Linked DNA regions of Homo sapiens. The protein of the gene in region 2 purifies or fractionates together with the protein of the main gene of each other region. This does not show direct contact. Each region holds a gene or a part of one and is shown on either strand. Other genes may lie near its edges.

Region 1 (6,950 bases), on a different chromosome or scaffold from region 2:
TCTGGGAGGGGGACCCTCTTCCAACCACAGCCACATCACCTTCGTCCCAAGTCAGCCCTGCACGTCGTATCCACCCTCCCCTCTGCCGGAATGAGATAGTCAAGGCAAACTGAATTGCTCTTCGTGCAGAGGCCCTCCCATGACCATGAGTAGAAGGTGCCCCCAACATGCTTCTAAGACTGGACAAGTGGAATCCACAGCTGAGGCCTGGAGGATCCCAGACCAGGAGGGCTGCCTCCCCCGCAGTCCCGGCCAGACCCCTGCCAGCATTCTCAGATCTCTTCCAAACTTCCTGTTGGTGCCCTGGCCCTGCTGGGCAGCAAGGTAGCACAGGCGTCTCCCATTCCTGCTGAGCCCTGGGCTGCCAGGGTGTTCAGGGCCCACCTGGGGAGCCATTCACAAACGCAGCCTCCCCCTTGGGGGGGGCTGGGACCTGGGAATCTGTATGAAGGAACCTCCCTGCAGGAGTCTCCCCAACCCTTCAGCCTGCACGGCCCCCTCACAACTACTCCTCTCCTGTGGCCTTGCCTCACCCTCCTGAGGCCCTTCTCAGGCTCTGCCCACTCACACCTCTCCCTACTGCCCCATGTCCACCCCACAGCCTCAGTAGCCTGGGTGTCTTCCCAGATACCAGCAGGGCCCACAGCTCCCCACTTGCCCTGAAGTGAGGGGCTGGGGCAGACCCCCAGACAGGACAGGCCCTGCCCCACAGATGGGGCACCAATCCCCGTCAGGGCACCCGGGCACAGGTGCTGATGGGCTGGTGGAAAAGGAACAAGGCTGAAGGGCTCCAGACGCTGCAGGGCAGGAAGAACGCTGTTCTTGCTGGGGTGGGGTGGGGGTGCGGGAATGGGCCCAAGCATCTGCAGCACCTCCAAAAAGCCTCTGGGGGCCTGGGGCCCACTGGCAGGGCCTCCCAGGGAGCTTCCGCTGCATCCTCCCTGGCACAGGGACAGGCTTAGGGATTTGGGCCTGAGTCCCTGGAACATGCAGGAAGAGAAGGGGACTCTACGTGTGGCCCCAGCCCCATGGCGCTCACATACAAAGGTGCATGCCTGAGGTTAGAGTCGAATACTCTGCCTTCTGCAAGTAGGGCGGCTCACAGGCCAGGTGACGCTAGGCCCCCTGTCCACAGCCTGCCAACCCTGACACCACGCAGACTTGGGGGACTATGCCACTCTCCCTGCCCAGAGTACCCAAGGGCCACCCAGTAGGCCATAGGAAGCCAAGAGACAATGGCCACCCTTGCTCACTGGGCCCCGTTCACAGCAGCCTGCTGAGGGCCCTGGTCCGGCCACTCTGCAGGCCAGTGTTGGGCGGACCAGACACGTGGGCTCCAAACACGGATCAAGGCCAAGGAGAAGCCCATCCCTCAGTTCTCACCTGTCATACTGGGAGGCATACTTGCCACCGGTCAGAGCCCTGGAATACCACAGCAGGGGCGGGGCCGGCTAGCCAGCGGCCTGCACACCCACAGGGGTTCTGGGAAAAAGGTGAGGTGGCAGGTCCTGCTTAGGGCTCCTGGGAAATGTACAGGAAGCCCATAGGGGTGCACTGGTCTGGGTTCTTCCTGCCCAGATGTCACCTTGGCTCTTTGTGGCCTGAAGCCTCTCGACCACCTCTCCACCACCCTGTCCATTTATGTGCCGTGACCAGTGACAGCTGGACTTCCCAGCGCCTCCACAGCTGTGTGTGTCTTGCATATGTCGGGTGTCACATGTGTGCCGTCCATACCACCTAGGGATGCAGTATGAACCCCCATGCTGTAGGCAGGAAAGGCCCTGCTCCATCCTGTACACATCCCCACTGGTGGAGGTGGAGGGGGTGCTGCAGCCACAGCGCCAGCCTCAGCCACCTGGCCTTTCTTGCAGAGTCTCTGGAGTGGTGGGTACCCAGTGTGCAAGCCCTGCAGAGCCTATGTGTGTCTATGTTGGGGTCGCGGGGCCCACTGGTCTCAACACTCCACCAGTGCTGGCCAAGGAAGCCCCAAACCGAGCATCACAATCTCCATGGCCCTTTCCTCTGCCTCTGGCTTGGACTCATCTGCACGCACTGGTCACATGGAGGCCCTTCCGCAGCTGACACTCCAGCCCAACCCTTGGTGCCAGGATCCTGCAGATGTACACCTCGGTGGGTGACAGAAGCTGCTCATGTCCCCAGGCAGGGACCAGACACCTGAACGGGAGGCTTCCCGGAGTGACATGCTGTCCCGTGTCCCCGCAGGACTCCGGCTTCTATCCGAGGGTCCTAAGGGCTCACAGGCAACAGCTGGGAATCACCGGGGTGGGGGGAGGGGGGCACCTGTAGGGCGCAGATTCGCGTCCCTCAGCCTGGCCGTGCGGCGAGAGGCCGCTAGCAGCGCCCTGCGGACCGGCCCGCAGCCCCGGCGCCCGCCCCGGACTCACGGCGGGGGCGTCGGTCGAGGTGTACCGCAGGATGACCTGGAAGGGCTGGTGCGCCTGCAGCTCGGGCGGCAGCGTGACGGTGAGCGAGGAGCCGTAGTCGGTGAACGGGTCCACCCTGAAGGCCAGCGGACAGCAGGCGGGCTCGGAGCCGGGCGCCTCGGGGAAGGCGGGCAGCGGGGGCGGCGGCGCGGGCCCCGGCCCGGGGGCGGAGAAGGCGAAGGCGCAGGGCGTCTCGGCGGCGGCGGCGGGGGCGCGACGGAAGGCGGCTGAGTGCAGGCGCAGAGCCGGGTGCGCGTCGAGCACGAGCGCGCGGGGCGCGGGCCGCAGCGCGCACAGCTCGAGCACCAGGCAGCCGGCCAACTCGCGCGCCTCGGGCCGCAGCTCCAGGCCCAGCTGCAGGTGGCGGAGGCGGAAGAGCTGCGCGCTGGAGGCCGAGGCCACGTCCAGGGCGGGCGGCGGCTCGGGCGGCGGGCGGACGGGCGCGGCCTCGGCGCCGGGCGCCTGGCGGCAGCAGCACTGCGCGGCCATGGCCGCCGGCACTAGGTGAAATCCATGGGCGGCGGCCGCGCCGGGCCGCGGGCGAGGGGCGCCGGGCGGCGGCGGCGGCGGGGCGCGGGCACAACAGGAAGTCGCGCCGGGAGCCGCCCGGCCCGGCCCCGCGCCGTGCGCCGCCCCGCTCGGGCTCCGCTCGGCCGCCGCCGGGGGCGCTGTGCGCGGGGCCGGGGCGCGGGGCCGGGGCGCCGGGCGGGGAGGGCCAGGAGCCAGGGGCGCGGGGAGCCGGGGAATCGAGCGCGGCGCGGGGCCGGGGCGCTGTGTTGGGAGCCGAGGCGCGCGGAGCGGGTGAGCAGCACCCCCAGCCCCTCGCTTCCTCCCCGGGCGGCGCCCGGGAGATCCCAGGAGGCGGGATCGCTGCTCCCTCCCAGACACTGCCGGCCAGGCCCCTGGGGCAGCCGCTGAAGGGACCCGGGAACCTTGGGGCCACAGGGGCAGGCTGCTTCCAGGTGTGGTTCGTGTTCCCGAGGAGCGCAGCGTCGCGAACTCAATGTCATCCTTTCATCCGGGGCTACGGGCAGGGCAGGATTCTCCTGGCACCCCTGCCACTCCTCCAAGTCTACAGGTGTGGTCTGTGCTGTGGGCCCTGCGGTGCGAGAAGCGCCGGAGCCTTCACGCAGCGCTGTCAACTACAGCAGCCACCAACCACGTGTGGCCATTTAGATGCGAATTAAATACAGTTAGAAGTTCAGTTCCTTCGTGGCAGGTGGAGTGAGTGAGTGTGTGTGTCTTCCTGGGAGGAGTGGCTAATGGACAAAGCAGGCAGGAATCATTTCCACAATCGCAGAAGTTCCTCTGGGCAGTGCTGGGGACCTCTCATTTGGGAGCCCTGTGCTGGGGTACGAAGGAGGGTCTGGCCCGCCTGTCCCCACCCCATCCGCCAGGTCCACCCTTCCCAACGCCATTCTCTGTGGACCTGGCGAAGGCTGCCCAAGGCTGAGCCTGTCCAGGAGCCTGAGCCCCGAGGGAAGGGGTGCTCGCCTGGCAGAAGCTGCTAGTGAGCTCACAGCGGTTAAATTTTGAGGCTGTGGAATAACAGGGGCCACCATGATGTCGCTGTTGTCATCAAGTAAGAATTCAAATTCCTAGGGACAAGGGGCTTCTGGGGCTGGGGAACTATCCAGGAACCCAGGACACCTCTCTCTTCTGCTCCATTGAGGTGTGGCCGTGCAGGGCTGGACTCGGGTACCGCACTCGACTCAGCGTCAGCCCTGAGTAGTGTTTCCTGTGTCTGGACTCAGTCTCCTCGTTGTGTAACCCTCTGTGTCTACCCTCCTTCCGTGGGGCGGGAAGGAAGGCTGAGAGGGAGAGTGTGCGTTCACGTTTGCGGGACAGAGCACTGAGGCATCATTTCAGTTTTCCCGTAGGACCTCAGGTCCCCACGTGCCCTCTTTAGGGACACGGCCACGATCTTGGGGCACCCATCCCAAACTCACCAGGAACCCCTAGGCTTACACAGTCACTCAGAGGTGTGGATCAGCCTCGCATCCAAGGCTGACAGGGAAGACAGCTGAGATGGGACCCTCCTCACTGCCCCCAGCGCCCTGCCCGGTGGGGCCCTGCAGTGCCAAGGGCAGACTGTTTTCGATGGCACCCCCAGTTCTACGGGGCTCTCCAGAGCCCACCGGGCCATGTTCCTGGCTGGAAGAACCTCAGTTCTGCACACGCGGTGCCACACTAGCTGGGCCTGGCCGTCCGGGGGGCAAGTCACCACAGGGAGCTTGGGGTCTTGCCACCCAGAGCCCCGCATTGGGCTCAGGGAGCAGAGGTTGGGGTCTCGCCCTGGGCACCTCTCCGCGGCCAGTTCTGCACACAGGAGTCCAGAGTTGCTGTGGCACCTCCTCCCCGGGGGCCCAAGGGAGCGCCTCCCACCGCGCACGTATGTGAGGAGCTGCCCTACTGCACCCCATGGAGCGGGAGGCGCGGCTGAGCCGAGGGGGCGGGGTCTGCAACTGAGCCGCGGGAGCCTCTCGCGCCGGCCCCGCCCCGCCCCGCCCCGCCCGAGGAGGCCCCGCCCCCGCCGGCCTGACGCCCCCTGGCGGCGGGAGGCTACGCCGCATGCAGGCCTGGGCAGACACCTCTGACTTCTCTAACCCTGGCAGAGGAGCCTGGACGTCGCGACTGTCAGCCCTGGCTTTCTCCCACAGGAGTTTTCATACTCCAGCTTTTTGGTGATCAGCGCAGTGAAGTGGCTGCGCGGCATCTGCACCCCAGCCTTCCCCTGATGCACCCGAGGGAGGGGTTCCTGGCTTCACCCACTAGGAGGTGGGTGTGGGCATGGAGCGTTTTAGCAGGCTGGGGAGGGCAGCAAAGCTTCCAGGAAGAAGCAGTGTTCAGACAGGGCCGCGCCCAACCCCGACAGAGGACCAGGGAGCTACCAGTTCTCAGATGGAGCTGGTGGGCTAAAAAGGTCTGATGTGACCCACAGGTGTCCTTCAACCTGGCCGGGGCCCTGCTGCCCTTGTCCCCTTGTCACCAGGGCCAGGTCAGCAGGTAAAGGGTGTGCCCTGCCCTGAGGCAAGGGCAGCCGAGGTTTTCATCAGGGTGTTGTGAGCAGGGCTGAGCCGCGGGGGAAACCGCAGACCCAGGTCCTCCCTCCTCTCCAAGCCACTGTTCCTCACCCACTAGTGGCGACCGGCGGCTGCTTCCTTCCGGGTTGATGAAAAGGTTGCATGAGTCATGAGGAGCTTATCTAGAGAGGCCAGCGGCAGGCAAGCCCTCCACAGAGATGGGGACTGCCCTGGGCACCAGCTTGTGATGGGGGCCGCGGTCCACAGCGATGGGTGGTGCCGGCTGGTGACACGGCATAGAGGGGCAGCGACCAACAAGGTGTGGCCTATGCTTGAGGCCCAGGTACACAAGGCGTGGGGAGGGAGAAGGCCCTTCTCACTACCACCCCCACGCTTGGCTGACAAAACCCGTGCTTCCCATCCCCCCAGCTTTGGGCTCTGCCGCATCAGAGATGTTCGGTCCCCAGGTGGGATGCTTTTGCTTAGGAACACAATCGGGTCTCACTGGGAGGGTGGCTCAGACACGGCCCAGCCACGGAAGCATGAGACAACACAGGGCTGGCTCTGGCAGGTGGGCATGAGGCTTTGTGAGGCTTGGGGGCCAGGAAGAGTGGTGCCTCCTACTTCTCTCTGGTGGTGCAGTACAGGTAACGGAGGCCACAGCACCTGTGTGGGCAGCCATGCAGGGCCTGGGGCCTTAAAAATGAAGGATCGAGTCATGCCACCAGGTGAAGGCCATAAGCAGCTTAGGCACTGGCTGAGGGTAGAACATGGAACGAGTATTGGAAAAGGCAGATAAGCACCAACCACAGTATTTTACTCATTGACGCATACAGAATGTAAATACGCGTAGTTGTATATATTAACCAATGACTACGTTATCTGTGATTCACATGTATTACACACATTTTCCTTTTCTTTCCCCACTCCTATTTAAGGAGTGTTGATTCTAGGATAGTCTTTAGGCCACAGGATGTCCAGGAGAGGTGGTGTCTGAACTAGAGAAGGAATCAACATGCTTGGATGCCTCCAGTGGTGGCTTATGGGGTTCCACCCTCACACGGCGGGAGAGGCAGCACCTTGTTGGCTTGACAGTAGCTATGTGACCTTAAGTTGGGGTGCAATGTTGGTGAAACAGAGATCAAAGTAGGAGAGGGGTGCAGATGCTGGAGGCCTCCCGGGTTCCCTCACCAGGCCGTCTGTCAGCACAGCCTCCTTCTCCCCTGCCTGTCACAGGAGGGGCTTCCCATGTTCGGTGCCCAGATGAGACCAGTGAGAGGTCTGGGAGGTGGGAGGAAGGAGATGTACTGTGGCTTCAGCAGCTGGTGGGCAGGAGGCTCTGCTGGCAGCTCCAGGTGCCCTCCACAGCCAGGACATCAGGCAGTGGGGATCTGGGTGGCAGGTCCCTGTGACTCCCCTATGTCTCCTCTCCTGTCCTTGGCTCCCCAGCCTTCTTCTCCCTGCATTCAGTTTCTTTCTGCCC
Region 2 (7,399 bases):
TTTCCTGTACTATGAAATCTTATCTTAAATGACAATCTGAGGAAAAATCAGACCACACTTACATTTCCTATACTTTACCATTGTGTACTATAAACAGTGAGTGTCAGCTATCTAGGAAACCTAAAGACTGCCCAATGGATAGCATTTTAATAATAACTTAAATGTAATTTTCTGAAAGATTAGATGAATATATTGGTGAGCCTATGACAAATCTTACAGTCCTGACACTCATCACCTGTTGAGGTAACTTGAAAATTTTTTGGTTAAAATTAAACAAACTTAGGTCCAAAGGCCCTATATGTAACTTTCCATAAATGAATCCCATTCACAAAAAAATACCGAATATAACAGCAAAATCGCTGTCTTCCACAAGAGTACAGAAACTTGAGTGAAAAAAAAATTAATGGGCATTGTTGACAGTCATATTCTGGAAACCCCTTAACAGTGAATTGCTAAAGTAACCCATGACCCAAATTCTGTCAATGTTTAACTTCAAAATGCTCTCTGTTGAGGAAATAATTTCTGTTTCATGATAATCTTATCGTACTTCGAGTTTTCTAATTATAAAAGTATATAAACAACTCTTTAAAAGCCCCTTAAAATCATACTAATATAGCTACCTGTATGCCAATGTCCTGAATTATCCAGATTTTACCAAACATACTTTCAAAAATACAAAGCAAAGGAAAGAGTGGCTGTCATTCATTGAGCTCTTTTCTGGCGTTGCTATCCTGCTTCACTGAACTTTGTTTTGTCCTGAGCCAATACTGAAGTACTTACAGTACAGACACATTTGAGTATTAACATTTCAAGCAAAATCATTCACGTTTTCTAATGTGAATGGTAGGGAGAACACAAACCTTGGAATGAAATATGAATTCCTTCTCCATGACTCAACTGTTCTTGGTAAGCCTCCATTTCAGAGCCTCAGTTTTCTTATTTATAAAATGGGGCTAACATCCTTATGCAAATGGGCTTTATTCAGTGTATTCAGGTAGGGTGACTTGGCATTCTACATGCTATTAAAGGGTGCATACAATACTGTGGACACCTTGGCTGAGAAGATCAGACAACAACATTCTAAGAAGATCAAAGTAAACTAGTGAAATAATGTATATTTTTGTACATCAAATTAAACAGTTTCATCTGATTTAGCAAGGACTGTATTTTCAAGCATACGAAATATATTTCAAAGGTAAGAGAAGATTCATTATATCCATGAAGCTGCAAACTATACTCTTCACTTTTCCAGCCAACTCTCAGCAAATGTTTGAGATCCTTTCCTAATGTTTTCTTTCCTCCTGTTACTGGTCATGGCATAAGGCATGATGCACACATAGGCCTCCTCCCCTCCCCATAGACATTCTTTCTTTCCCTTCCCAGCACCTTGAGTCTCAGCTGCACCCTGATCTTCTTCTCTCTCCTGACCAGGTGCAGGATCCCGACTTTCAGTTGGTGGTTCCTCTTGCTGAGGCTCCTCATCACCGGGCTCCTGGAACCAGGGGTGTGTGTGTGTGTGTGTGTGTGTGCAGATAAAAAGTTTTGTTATCGATACATTTCAATAATACAAATATACAGAATACATAGATATTTCTGATCATAAGTCTAAAGACATTTCTCCAACACGATTCCACATACTTATTTTTCATAAAGTTACTCTTCCCACAGAGAGGTTACTCTAAGACAGTTGCCCTCAAGGGCTTTGGAAGCTGTTTTAATCTAAGCTGGGATGAATGTGTGTAATCTTTTGCAAATAAGCATGAGAAGGAAATCATGGGCAAAATCTGGGGAACACAAGATCATCCATCCAGACAACAGAAGAACTTAATCCTCTTGGACTAGTCTTTCCTTCATGAGATGCCATGATTATTTTTCTCAGCATGGGAGACCTTTATTGGTATATCTATACTGGTTCAACAACAATTACAAAACATAGTTTTGCAACAACAACAAGTTACAAAAATAACTTTCTGCTAATAGAAAACATCAAAGGTTAAGGCACTCACCAGCATAGGCCCAATCAGCTCAGGAGGTGGTACACTTCTCCTCGGCCTAGGCCTATATGTTGATCTTCCTCGCCAAATCATATTTCACACTGCAAACAGAATACTGTGAATTGGTAAATGCACTTGAAAAGACAGCTATATTTGACCACTTCCATGACCAAATATTAACTTGTCATTTTTTAAAAGTTTGTAAATACTTTCGAACTAAGTCTCAGGGCAAGTGTAAGTATGTGTGCCTTCTGAATGCTTGGGAAGCCATTAAGTTGGTCAAGCTAGCTGAGCAATTTCTTAAGGCTCCTGGCAAAAGACAGGATATTTCCGATGAGGTTTGGTTTCACAACTGAACTCTCCTCCGTGGAGACATTTGGGAAAATACAGCCAGAGAATTAAAACTGCAGTGACCACGGCTTTTGTCACACACCCATTTGCTGGGCCCATTTCCCCCCTAAAATCAAGTTTTGTTGGAATGCAGAGCCCCGCCCATTCAAACCTCCACAGTGGAGTTGAGAAGTTGCCACACAGCTCTGGGCCCTCCTCACTGTACACCTCTGCCAGGCGCTTTACAGACCTCAGGGCCACAGTCACCAACCCGCAGCGTTCCCAGTTCCCTTCCTTAATGCCCACCCTGCTCCTTCCCGGGTCGACACGGAGGAGTCTGGAATCCGTCCTCGGTCGAGGGTTCCAGGGACTCGGATACCTGCCCCAGCACCCCCAGCACTCGCCCCATTTTCACCTGACCCCTCTCAACTACGCGGCCCACCTTCTTCCCTCATTCTGACTTCACCACAACAAGGCCCATGGCAGTGCCACCTCACGAGGAGAAGGACGATCACCTTGAGACCCTTCGGCCTCTGAGGCCACGGGCTATGCTTTCCCACGCTCCGGACAGCCACTGGCTCCTCCTCACACGCACTCACACTTCAACCCTTGGGAGGACTGGCCTGCGGACCTACCAGCTGCGTCTCAGTGGGACAGAAAAAGTCCAGACAGCAGGAACGCGACCCTCACACCCTCACAACTCCAGGGCATTCACCACGTGGGAAAAGGGGCCGAGGGGAAGACACCCAGTGGACATGCGCAGTGAGGTCGGTGCCTGCCTAGTGGGCTGTGGCGCCTCTCCTAGCCCCACCCCATGCCGCGCCGCGCAGTTCTCTACCCTCTCCCAGGTTCCCACTGAAGACTTCGGAATGTGTCTTCTGTGGGCGGTTTCATATGCCTCCGGGACTCAAATACCACAAATAGTTTCCCCCTTCAAAACTCACTCCATGTTCACTAGGTCCTCCTCCCCTCTATGGCCCTCCTTCCTCCCCTGTCTGGGACCCCCACGACAGCAAGGCCATGGCTGTGTCACCACCTGTTAGGAGAAGGACAGGAACCTCAAGGACCTCCCCGTCGGAGGCCATAGACCGCGCCGCGGGCTCCTCCTCACAGTCTCTCCCACTTCAACTCTGGGAAGACTGATCTTCGGACTTACTGGCTGACTCCTAGTCAGCAGCACAGAAGGAAGTCATGATGTCTCCTTGCACAGCTCTGCAGGGACAGAAGGCGGACAGCAAGGCACATGGACAAGGGACTTGGGCAGCAAGGGACGTGCACACTGAGTCAGGCACATGCAAGGCCACCCGGGGTTTTCCCTCTCTCCCCAGGCTCGCATCCCTAAGGTGTTTGTAGTAGAAGGAAAGGGACTAAGAGGCTTCGTTCTCTCTCTTGCCCTACCATTCTCATGCATCCAGAAACACTGGGGACAGTCCCATGTCACCATGAGTGGAGGATGTGTCTCAGACCTTTTGTGACAGAAATAAATTATTTTATTATATATATTCATACATACTTCTTTCTCATTTATATATGCATGGGTGTCTGCCATGTTGCAGGAAATATCTGGGATGCTGGAAATGTGAAGACCAAGGAACCACACGTGGTATGTCCCATGGAGGCTACCACACTGTGGTGGGGCAGACAGACAGTTAAACAGAAGAGCAGTTGAACTGCAAAGGAGAAACACGGGGAACGGACCCAGGGGAGTAAAGAACAATGAATGTCGTGGCCAAGAAGCAAGGGAGAAAACAACACAATTTCTCAAGAAGATAATATTTCTCCATTGCCTTTGCACCTTTTTTGAAAATGAGTTTATCATGTCTGTGAACCTATTGCTGGACTCCATTCTGATCTGTTGATTTTTCCCCAGTACCACATTCCCTGGATTACTATAGAATTAACATGACTCTTGAAATTAGGTAGTGTGATTTCCCCAAAGTTATAGTTCAGAATCGTTTTGGTTTTTCTCGTTCATTTTCCTTTCCATATAATTTTGAAAAAATGACTCCAATGAAGTGGGTTGTATAAGTTCATGCAGTTTCGCTTTGAAAGGCAGCAGATAAATGTGTTAGTAGCTATAGGAGGACATGGGGGAAGAAGGGGAGTTCCCCCCTTAGCTTGGAGAATGATCCCATTTAGAGGGAAGAGTTGGTGGTTCAGGAGAGAGGAATGATCATTGCAGGAGCAAAGCTCCTGAAAAGGTGGGAGGCATGGGATCCTGAGCTGAGGTGAGGGGCTGGCTTTAGTTAGGAGCATTGTATGCAGAAGGGCGGCAGAGAATGCCAGGGCAAGCACAGGTAGACTGGGTTTTAGAAGCTCTAAGAGTTCCCAGCAGATCGCTTCTCTCCTCTAAATGAATCATTATGGGAGGTCATTCAAATGGAGGAGAGTTTCTAGCATTGTGTGGGTGTTTATATAACTATAGAGAAAGTTTCTGTCATCTTAGAGAATACATCAATCATCATGAACAGAATATTCCTAGAAATATGAATGTTGAAGGTGAGCTCTCAGACAGGAATGGGGAACACGGTGTTGGAAACATGTGGACACACAATCCCTGTAAGAAAGTAGCAGAGAATTTGGCTAGAATGCATTCTCTTAGATGCAGAGTAGAACTTGTAAGTGATGAAATTGTATATGTAGCTAAGAACATTTCTAAGCAAAGTATTGAAGTTGTGGCCTGGTTTCTCCTCGCTGTTGGTTGCAAAATGTAAGGGAGGAGAAATAAAACAACAACAGAATTGCTGAGCAAAAAGGAATCAGCCCTTGATTATTTAGAAGATTCTCAGCCTAACCAGATAGCAAGCTCTGGAAATAGGGCCAAGGGTGTAGCAGGACAACTGATTGCTAAGGATATGAGCTATGTGAGTCATGGATCCAGTCAACCATCTCAGCAGAATGCAGGGAAGGAGATGCATTTATCCAGGAAAGATCTAGGGAGGATTCAGGGTCTGTTGGCATGGATGCCATGAATTGCATCAGAGGCCAACATGTTTTTGAGGATTTTATACCAAAAGAAGCACAGCCAGCCTGAAATGAAAGGGACAGAAATGGGACAAAATAAAGGAAGAGTGACTTTGAGGGGAGAGCTACAGATGCAGAGGCTGGCAAGCTGCCACTGCCTCTATAGGCCCAGACAGCAATGACCTGGGGAACAGGAATCCAGACGCCTCTTCCTGAGCTCCAGATGGCAGAGCCACCTCCTCAATTTCAGAAAACAGGGCTTCTGCCCAGGGGTGAGGGAGCAGGGCTAACATTCAGGGCCAAGAGGGCAGAGCTGCCACCCTACTAGGCCCAGAGGACACATCATCAAGCCAAAGAGGACCATTCTGAAGCCTTAAAATCTCTTAAAGTCTGAAACCTTGCTTGGACCCCATGACTCCTTTTCTCCTTCCATCTTCTCCATTTTGGAATAGGAATGTTTCTACTATGCCTGCACCTTCATGCTGTTTTGGAAGCAGATAACATCTTGTCTGGTTTCACAAGTTCACAGATGAAAATAATTTTGCCCCAGAATACAACATACTCTGACTCTCACCCTTTCCTGATTTTGATGACATTTGAATGAGATTTGGGATTTAGAGTTGATGCTGAAAAGAATTAAGAGTTTTGAGGATGTTGAGATGAGATGAATGTATTTTAGATGTGAGAGAACATGAATTTGAGGTGCCAGATGGTGGACTTTTACATATTAAATCATGTCCCCTTCAGAAATTTATGCAGGCATAAATCATAGATATTGCATGTACTGTTCCAGAACACCACAATAAAGCAAGTCTCACACATTTTTTTATTTCCTAGTGCATATAAGAGTGATGTTTATAGTATGTTCTCACTCATAAGTGGGAACTAAGCTATGTGGATGCAAAGGCATAAGAATGATACAATGGACTTTGAGGACTCAGGGGAAAGGGTGGGAGGGGGGTGAGGGATGAAAGACTACAAATTGGTTTCAGTATATACTGCTCAGGTGATGGGTGCATCAAAATCTCACAGATCACCACTAAAGAACTTACTCATGTAACCAAATACCACCTGTTCCCCCAAAAACCTATTGAAATAAAAAATTTTAAAAATGATAATAAAATAAAATAAAAGTGATGTTTATACTACACTACAATCTGTTAACTGTGCAATAGTATTATGTCAAAAAATGTACATAACTTAATTGGAAAATACTGTATTGCTAAAAGATGCTAAAGATCATCTGAGCCTTCAGTGCGTTGTAACTTTTGGGCTGGTAGAGAGTCTTGCCTGGATGTACATGGCTGCTGACTGATCAGGGTGCTGGTTGCTGAAAGTTGGGTGGCTGTGGCAATTTATTTTCTTTTTTTATTTACTTTTTAACAAGCTAATACTACATGGAGGGCTGTGGCAATTTCTTAAAGTAAGACAACAGTGAAATTTGCTCCATTGATGTACTCTTCCTTTCACGAAAGATTTCTCCATAACAGGCAATGCTGCTTGATAGCATTTTACCTACAGTAGAACTCCTTTATAAATTGGAGTCAGATCTCTCAAATCCTGCCATTACCTAATCAACTCATCCTTTGCTGTCATTTCCACAGTGTTCACAGCATCTTCACCGGGAGTAGATTTCATTGCAAGAAACTACTCTCTTTATTCATCCATAAGAAGCAACTCCTTACAGGTTAAAGTTTTATCATGAGATGGCAGCAGTTGAGTCACCTCTTCACGCTCCACCCTTGTTCTCTTGCTGTTTCCACCATGTCGGCAGGTACTTCATCCACTGGAGCCATGAACCCCTCAAAACCACCCATGAGGGAATACACGGTCTGCTGTCGTTATGAGGAGCTTTCTTTACATGTCACTTAGATCCAATTAGTCCATGGTGCCATTCAGTTCATCTATATGTTGCTGACTTTTTTCCATTGGTTCTGTCTGATTTGATTATGCATTTTAAAGCTTTGTAGTTGAGTTCTGTGCAAAAAAGAGGTAATATAGCAGGTCTGAAACTACTATCCTTAGAAAGGCCAGCTTGCAAGACTGGCCCTTGCCTGGCATCTCTGAACTTGATTTCAGGAGGTTTCCCACCATTCTCCATCTGATAAGAG
Region 3 (2,685 bases), on a different chromosome or scaffold from region 2:
AGAGCAACATGATTTTTTTCTGGAACTTGACATGCTGATTTAAAAGTTTAAGGCAAGAAAATTCTGAAAGTTAGGGAGATGACAACCATACCACATCTTAAAATACATTAAAATAAATGTTAATAGTTTGGTCCCATTACTATATGACAAGAATGGCAGAATAATGGAATACAATAAAAGCCCAGAAATAGAACTAACTAAAAATGAAAATTTACCATATGACAAAGGCATTGTGTCAAAACTGTGGTGAAAGATGGACTGTTTGGTAAATGATTCTGGGATAAATGGCTAGCTTTCTGGGGAGAAATATTATATCCCTACCTATAAGTGCACATCTGTAAGTATATGCTGTGCACATATAGAGTGTCTGAAAGAATGCATATGAACTTTTTACTTGTTCCACAGACTAAGACAATTGAGGATCAGAAATGTAAGATTTACTTTTTATTTACATATTCATTTTTTTTAAACCATGTATAATTAGTAACCCTTTCAATGAACAAACTTGTTAACATTTTTGATTTAGTTGGCAGGCAGTTGGAGTTTGACCTTTTGAAGCATTAACTTGACTGACTTTTCTGTGTTTCTCCCCAGTGACCTGTGCATGGATTGTGCCTTGCAGCTGGAGACCTGCCCATTGTGTCGTAAAGAAATAGTATCTAGAATCAGACAGATTTCTCATATTTCATGACACATGTGAAGAGGCATCGTGGACTTTTTTCTACTCAATTCCAGCCAATGTTGAAAAGAAAAAGAAAAAAAAAACTCTCTAATCAGTTGTACACACATTGAAACTTATAGCCATGGCCAGATTTTATGCTAAAAATGGTAGTTTGTCAAAGACAAAATTCTCTTAGAATCTAATCCAACTTGCCAGCCCTGAGAAAATCCCTTTTAAGGCCAAGGAAAGCTGAATGCTAGCAGCCAGGCCTGTGGTACTTCCATGAGAAACCATAGCAGACAATGCCCTCCCAAGTACTGAAATCACACTGGAATCCCCCTTGTTGGGTTCATTTGATTGTTTAACACAGGATGTGTTGTGTCATTCTGAAGTTTTTATTTGGGGCAGAAGTCTTTATGGAGATGTAAATGACAGCGTTTCTGGGTTATGCATAACTTCTCACTGGTCAGAGACACCGGTGTGTCAAGCATGGATATTGCATTGCAAGACTTGAATCTATAAAAATTAGAATCACACAGTCAGTACTACAAGCAAAACAGAGAACCTGAAAGAAGGTGCACAGACTGTAAGAAAAAACCCAAGTTTGTGATATTTCAGTGATTCCAAAGAACATTCTAGGTTTTTTGTTTGTTTTTTTGTTTTTTGGGTTTTTTTTTTTTACTGCAGAAAATTGGTGGTATTTTCACATTCATAGTGTTTCTATCCAATTTCAGTACCCACATTTAATGAGGAAAAAATGTTTTACCAATGAAGGAGGAATTCTTAAATTAGCTGTAATGTTAGGTTGGAGAAAATTTGGTATTTAGGGTATTTTCAAGGTACCATCAAATCAGATTTCTGTTTTTTTGTTAAAAAAAATTTTTTTAATCAGTATTGTTTTTACAAGTAATATACTTTGAAACTCTTGAACTAATAGTCTCAAAAACTCTAGAGGACAGTCTGAGAACACGTATTTCTATTGTTCTAAATAAATACATGTTTTTGAATAGTTCAATCATGAATTATTGACTATGTCTTCATCAAAAGTGTTAATCCCTCTCAGGGTCTCTGGTGAAGACCTTCAAGAGTTTGGTTTTTTCTCCCAGGAAATTGGAAGGTAGAATTGTAAATTCATAGAACTTCTTTTATAATGGTGTACCTCAGCAGCTGCCTTTCAATTTATGCCAAGTCCTTACAGAGTTTATACTTGAATAGTAAATATGTCTTCTGAGTTTTACAGTGTCTTAAACTCAATGCACATTTTTTTTTCTTCTTTTTCCACCCCTTCTTGTTTGTAGTTCATTATACCTGTCCTATTACAGAACTGATTTCCTTCCTGGCTGTACATGTTGGGGTGCTGGATTTTTTTCCGTGTCTTTAGTCTTCCATAAATCCACACACACACACACACACAAAAAATATATATATATATAAATATATATGTAGGATACATGTTCTCTTCTTTAGCTTGTGGTGAATACAGTAATTTGCATTGAAGAATAAAACATCTGTTGCCTTTTTTGACTAAGATTTCACAACTTTCATTGGTGTATACTGCTAAGGTTCCAAGACATTATACTCTCAGACTTTAAGGGCTACTTTTGGGAGTAGGAGAGAATCAAGTATTAGAATTAAGAATAAGGCCACTTACTCATCCAGCAGATTGTTATTGAGCACCTAATATGTGCTGGGCACTGTGCCTATGTGGCATACAAAATATGCTTGTAGAGCTTATGTCTAATAAGCTTGTCTAATTATTGTCTATTATTATGTCTAACAGTAATTTGGAAGTGGTCCAGCTGAGACTAAAGGTAGTCTGTACATTTAGTAGAGAGAGGGAAAAATAGATGGAATTAATAGATAATTTGCGAGGCAAAGGAATGCAGGAGCCTAACAGCTTTCTAAAAATCTACCCTTGAAGTTTGTTCCTAAGGTGGGGAGAAGACAATATATTTGTGTTTATTGTAACAGATTTTTAGTGGAAAAGAATAGGGTCCTAGAGAGAATGAGGGGGACCTAATTTA
Region 4 (4,667 bases), on a different chromosome or scaffold from region 2:
GCCCTCCTGTGGTGAGTGAGGCCAGTCAGCATGGAGAACATAGCAGGCTGGAGGCTTTGGGTCTAGGGGTCCCCGTAGAGGAGTGGGGGTCATGGCTGGCAGGAAGTAGGACGGGCTCTGGCTCTCCCTTGTCCGGCCTCGCTGTTCAAGTGCAGCTCTGCCTCTGGTTGTGGGACTCACCTGATGTGCCCTGTCGGCTTCCAGAATGACGCCCAGAGCTGGGCACCTGGCGCTAGACACAGACATGCAAACACACACACACACACACACACACCAGTGTGCCCGCATTCGCACCACGTGCACGATGCATTCGTGGACACACACAGACTCATTCGACACGTGCGCAAATGCACAGGCTCCCCTAACCTCTGCCTGGAACGTCCCCTCTTCGGGGACAGATCTGGGGTGAAAAGGAAGCTGTACTTCCTTGGACAGGGGACAGAGAGCTGGGCCGGGTCCAGGGGGACCTGCAAGTTCTGCAGAGACCCTGAAATATGGTGTCATAATAAAAACCCCATTTAAAGTACTTCTTTTTTTTTATTGATTTCATTGGAAACAGAACAAGAAATGGTCAGAGCCAAAAGACTGCTCTTAAAACTGTCAAAAACATTTTAACAGAAAAAAATAAACATGACTGCATTATGAATGTTTTTAGAAGAGTTGCACAAAAAAAACCCCACTGTTACTGCACTAATTACAGTCTTTAAAAAGGTATATGCCAAAAAAAAGTATATGACCTGCCAGGCCACCACACAAAAGGTGATGGCAAATTTATTCACGCTACAAGACTAACATCTTTAAAAAAGTTTTTCCTGCATTTTATTCTAAAATCACTTTGTTCTCTTTATACAGTTGATAGTTTATTTCACGTGGTGAGTAGAAACCACACCAGAATCAGCACCGTTGTCTGTGTTTTGTTTTTTATTTTGTGTTTGTCCTAATGTTCAGTAATGGTAGAAAATAAATCAGTTTATTCATCATAGCATGTGGCTTAAAAAATCAACAGAAGGTGCCAGCGTCAACGGAACCGGCGGGGGCTGCACCCACCAAGCCACTTCCTCGAAAAGAAACGTCAGTTAGAGGTTTGATATATAGGACTAGATATAGGATTCCTTTAAAAAGCAAACCCACATTTTCTCCAAAGTTAGTGGTGGGGTCGGTCTCCTGACCTCTCCGAGCCTGACAGGAGACTGTGCCCTCCGTGCGGCCCCTGGGACTCGGCCCCAGCCACGCAGGCCGTGGGCAGGGCGAACGGAGCAGCTCGCGCTAACGGTGGCTTCGGCGGCGCCACACAGAAGAGTCTGGGCCGGACAGGAGAACAGAGCAACCCCGTGGTGCAGCGGGGACCTCGGAGGTCAGAGGAAGAAACGAGAAACTTCGCAACGACAAATCAGCATCAGAAACTCAGAAGGTGATGCCAGTGCGGACTCCCAGCGTCTCTGGCGCGCGGACCAAAGTGTGCGCTCCAGCCTGGGCACTGGGCCCGCGGTGAGGCCGCAGGTCTGGGAAGGTGGCTGGGAGGCATCCACACCCGCCCGCAGGGGCTGCAGCCTCACCTCCGACCCCTCCAGGAAGCCGGCGGCGCAGCCCCGAAGGACCCTTTCGGTTGCGTGCGGAATCTCTCCTCCTCGTCCTCTAATCGGCGACGCGGCGGTCCCTGGCTCCCGAGCGCCCCGCTGGCCGGCGGCGTCTCATAGGGGGTCGGCGGCAGCCGCGGAGCTGGTGTCGGGCAAGCCGTCCTCCTGGGCCTCCTGGGCCGCGCTGGCCTGACGCTGGGCCAGGGCCGCGCTCGAGTGCCGGCACTTGGGGGAGCCGCAGCGGCAGCTGAAGAGCTTGCCTTTGATGTCCCAGAAGCGCTCTCCATAGTCAAACCTGGGGAGGGAACAGAACCAAGGCTCCAAGTCGAATCCCACCGGCACCTCCCACAAGCCAGATAAATTAAGGCAAGGCCAAAGCTTCCTCACCCCGATCTGCCGTGCCGCATCCCAGGTCGCAGTTTTTAGAACTACAGGAAAACCACTAGCATAAACCCGAGACAAGCCCAGGAAAGCAATGCGAGCCCCGTTCCTAAAACCGTCCCGCCGGCAGCGGAGATGGCCAGGGGCCGGGGCGGTGCGTACCCGAGCTGCTCGCCGGCCTCGATCAGGCGGGTGCTGAAGAAGGCGATCCGGGGGAACCGCAGGTCCTGGTGGGCCATGAACACGCGCACGGGCACCAGGTTGGGCTCGCAGTGGTGGTTGATGAACCGGCTGACGTTCCCGTAGAACCGCGCGTCGATGCAGTAAACCTCCCCGTCCTGCAGGGCGAGAAGCCGGCACGGGCTGCAGTTAGCAAGGCCCCGACACGCCGGCCTCGCCGGGTACGGCCATGCATGGCAGTCCCGGAGCCTGCAGTTGGGCGCAGGCCCGCCATGCAGGAGGGGCCTTCTCCAGTGACCTGTGGCGGCGGTGCGGAGCCTCCGCCAGCCTTCTCCTCGCTGTGTGGCCACCCACCCCGCACCCTGCCGTCCTCGCTGGGCCTCCGTCTGTGGTGGGGTGGGGGTGGTGCGGGCCGTTCCCTTGACGGCGTCCCCATGGGGCTTCCAGCGCGGTGGAATGTGGACAGCGCCATCCCACCCGAGGACCCATGGGGCTGTCTGGCACCAATAGGAGAAAGGAGGCCGGGGCTGCAAGAGCCCCGTGAGGCAGTGGCAGGGGCTGAGGGGGTCGGGAGGGATGGAGCTGGCATCCGGGACACACTGTCTTGGTGACGAGGAGGCGGAGCAGTCCCCAGAGGGTCTGGGAAGACTCAGTGGCGAATGGCACCAGGGAGGACCGTCAGGCGGAGGCTGCCCACAGAAAACGACTTCTGCTGCAGCCCTTCCGGGTGCTGATGTGACTGTGGAACACGAGGCCGAAGAGACTGAGGCGTCCTCCTCACCCTGGTGCCTTGGAGAGGAGCCCAGGATTCCGGGTGGCCACATGGCCCTGGGCCCTGGCCCCTGGCACTGGCCTGTGATGATGGATTCTGAATTGACCATAGAGAGGGGGACGAGGTGGGTGGGCCTGACCTAACCACGCAACCCCTTTAAAAGCAATTCTCTCTGGAGACCCAGGGCTTGGAGCTGCTGGGGCCTGGATGGAGGAGCTGCGTGGGAGTAAGGTAGGTGGTCCCGGCCGGCAGCTAGCAAGGAACCTAGACGCTGCCCACGCAACCACAGGGACCTGGGCTCAGCAGCACCCTGCCTGTGCAGCCCGAGGCCCGGCACGCCCAACCCCTGCTGCGCACACTGGGCCGAGTGGGTGGCCGCCATGGCGAGCTGCGGGTGGGTGGCGTGGTTTGTTACCCAGCGACGGGAAGAGGCAACACCACAGACGACAGCCAGGCAGACGGGGAAGGAGGCACCTGGGGCTTTCCAGGACCGAGTTCCGAGAGGGCGGGGCCTGCCGGCAGAGACACCTGGTCCACAACCTGCCCCAGCATGAACATTAACCAGAGAGCCAGGGACGCTCAGAGGTCAAGAGGTTAAAACCCAAACCAACAAGCGGGTAAAGGCGTGGACGAGAGCAGCTCTCCGTCAACCTTCACGGCGCGGGCAGTGACAAGACAGTAAACCAGGCGAGCACGGCCGCAGGACAGGACCAGCCACAGCCCCCAAAGCCAAAGGCGCGGGAAGCTGCCTCCTGGTTTACCCCAAAGAAACAGAGTTCAGAGTGGCTCACCTGGCGTGGACTTTGGCCTCTGCTTCGGGGTCTGATGGACTAAGAATCTATAGGCGACCCCTCCTCGTGCAGAATGCAATTCCGGAACTAGCAACGGCGCACACACGAAGGTCTTGATAAGCAGCAAAATGGAGAGTGAGGGGCTTCCGACTGGAGGGGCCAGGCCCAGCTTTCACCAGGGGCAGCTCGTCTGGCAGAGCACACAGCGCTGCTCCGAGCTTCTAAGATGGGTGGGGTGTCAAAGTCTGTGACACAAATCTCTGCCCGACCAGAACCAGATAAAGACAACAGTCCAGAGAAGGACGGCTGGAGTAAGGCAGATAGGCAACGTGGGAGGCGGGGCCTGCGGAGAGAGCCCAGCCAATCCTAGGACTGGAGAGAAGGCACAGGGGCCACATGGGTGGGTGGGGGGAGGGCCTGCGGAGGGAGCCCAGCCAATCCTAGGACTGGAGCGAGGTGCAGAGGCCGCGTGGGAGGCGGGGCCTGAGGGAGACCAGCCAATCCTAGGATGGGAGCAAAGTGCAGTGGCCACGTGGGAGGCGGGGCCTGTGGAGGGAGCCCAGCCAATTCTAGGACGGGAGCGAGGTGCAGAGGCCACGTGGAAGGCGGGGCCTGTGGAGGGAGCCCAGCCAATTCTAGGACGGGAGCGAGGTGCAGAGGCCACGTGGGAAGCGGGGCCTGAGGAGGGAGCCCAGCCAATCCTAGGACTGGAATGAAGGCACACAGGCCATGTAGGAGGTGGGGCCTGTGGAGGGAGCCTGGCCAATCCTAGGACTGGAGGGAAGGCACAGGGGCCACGTGGGGTTGGGGGGTTCTGCGGAGGGAGCCCAGCCAATCCTAGGACTGGGGCGAAGTGCAGCGGCCACGTAGGAGGCGGAGCCTGTGGAGGGAGCCCAGCCAATCCTAGGACTGGGGCGAAGTGCAGCGGCCACGTAGGAGGCGGAGCCTGTGGAGGGAGCCCAGCCA

What was found.
Region 1: the proteins of XAGE3 (region 2) and RNPEPL1 purify together in Homo sapiens (affinity purification with mass spectrometry; 2 studies listed by BioGRID and IntAct, with this or other methods). This does not show direct contact.
Region 3: the proteins of XAGE3 (region 2) and RSPRY1 purify together in Homo sapiens (affinity purification with mass spectrometry; 2 studies listed by BioGRID and IntAct, with this or other methods). This does not show direct contact.
Region 4: the proteins of XAGE3 (region 2) and EHMT1 purify together in Homo sapiens (affinity purification with mass spectrometry; 2 studies listed by BioGRID and IntAct, with this or other methods). This does not show direct contact.

The regions. Positions count from the first base shown.
Region 1 is NC_000002.12:240,564,570-240,571,519, reverse strand, and holds the start of RNPEPL1 (aminopeptidase RNPEPL1), read right to left. Parts: upstream 3,037-6,950; 5' UTR 2,934-3,036; coding exon 2,406-2,933; intron 1-2,405. UniProt on the Homo sapiens protein: Broad specificity aminopeptidase which preferentially hydrolyzes an N-terminal methionine, citrulline or glutamine.
Region 2 is NC_000023.11:52,865,047-52,872,445, forward strand, and holds the start of XAGE3 (X antigen family member 3), read right to left. Parts: upstream 3,038-7,399; 5' UTR 2,960-3,037; exon of another isoform or gene 2,767-2,959; intron 2,256-2,766; exon of another isoform or gene 2,204-2,255; intron 2,110-2,203; exon of another isoform or gene 2,096-2,109; 5' UTR 2,088-2,095; coding exon 2,007-2,087; intron 1,493-2,006; coding exon 1,387-1,492; intron 1-1,386.
Region 3 is NC_000016.10:57,238,285-57,240,969, forward strand, and holds the end of RSPRY1 (RING finger and SPRY domain-containing protein 1 isoform 1 precursor), read left to right. Parts: intron 1-594; coding exon 595-691; 3' UTR 692-2,185; downstream 2,186-2,685.
Region 4 is NC_000009.12:137,831,978-137,836,644, reverse strand, and holds the end of EHMT1 (histone-lysine N-methyltransferase EHMT1), read right to left. Parts: intron 2,297-4,667; coding exon 2,121-2,296; intron 1,873-2,120; coding exon 1,692-1,872; 3' UTR 518-1,691; downstream 1-517. UniProt on the Homo sapiens protein: Histone methyltransferase that specifically mono- and dimethylates 'Lys-9' of histone H3 (H3K9me1 and H3K9me2, respectively) in euchromatin.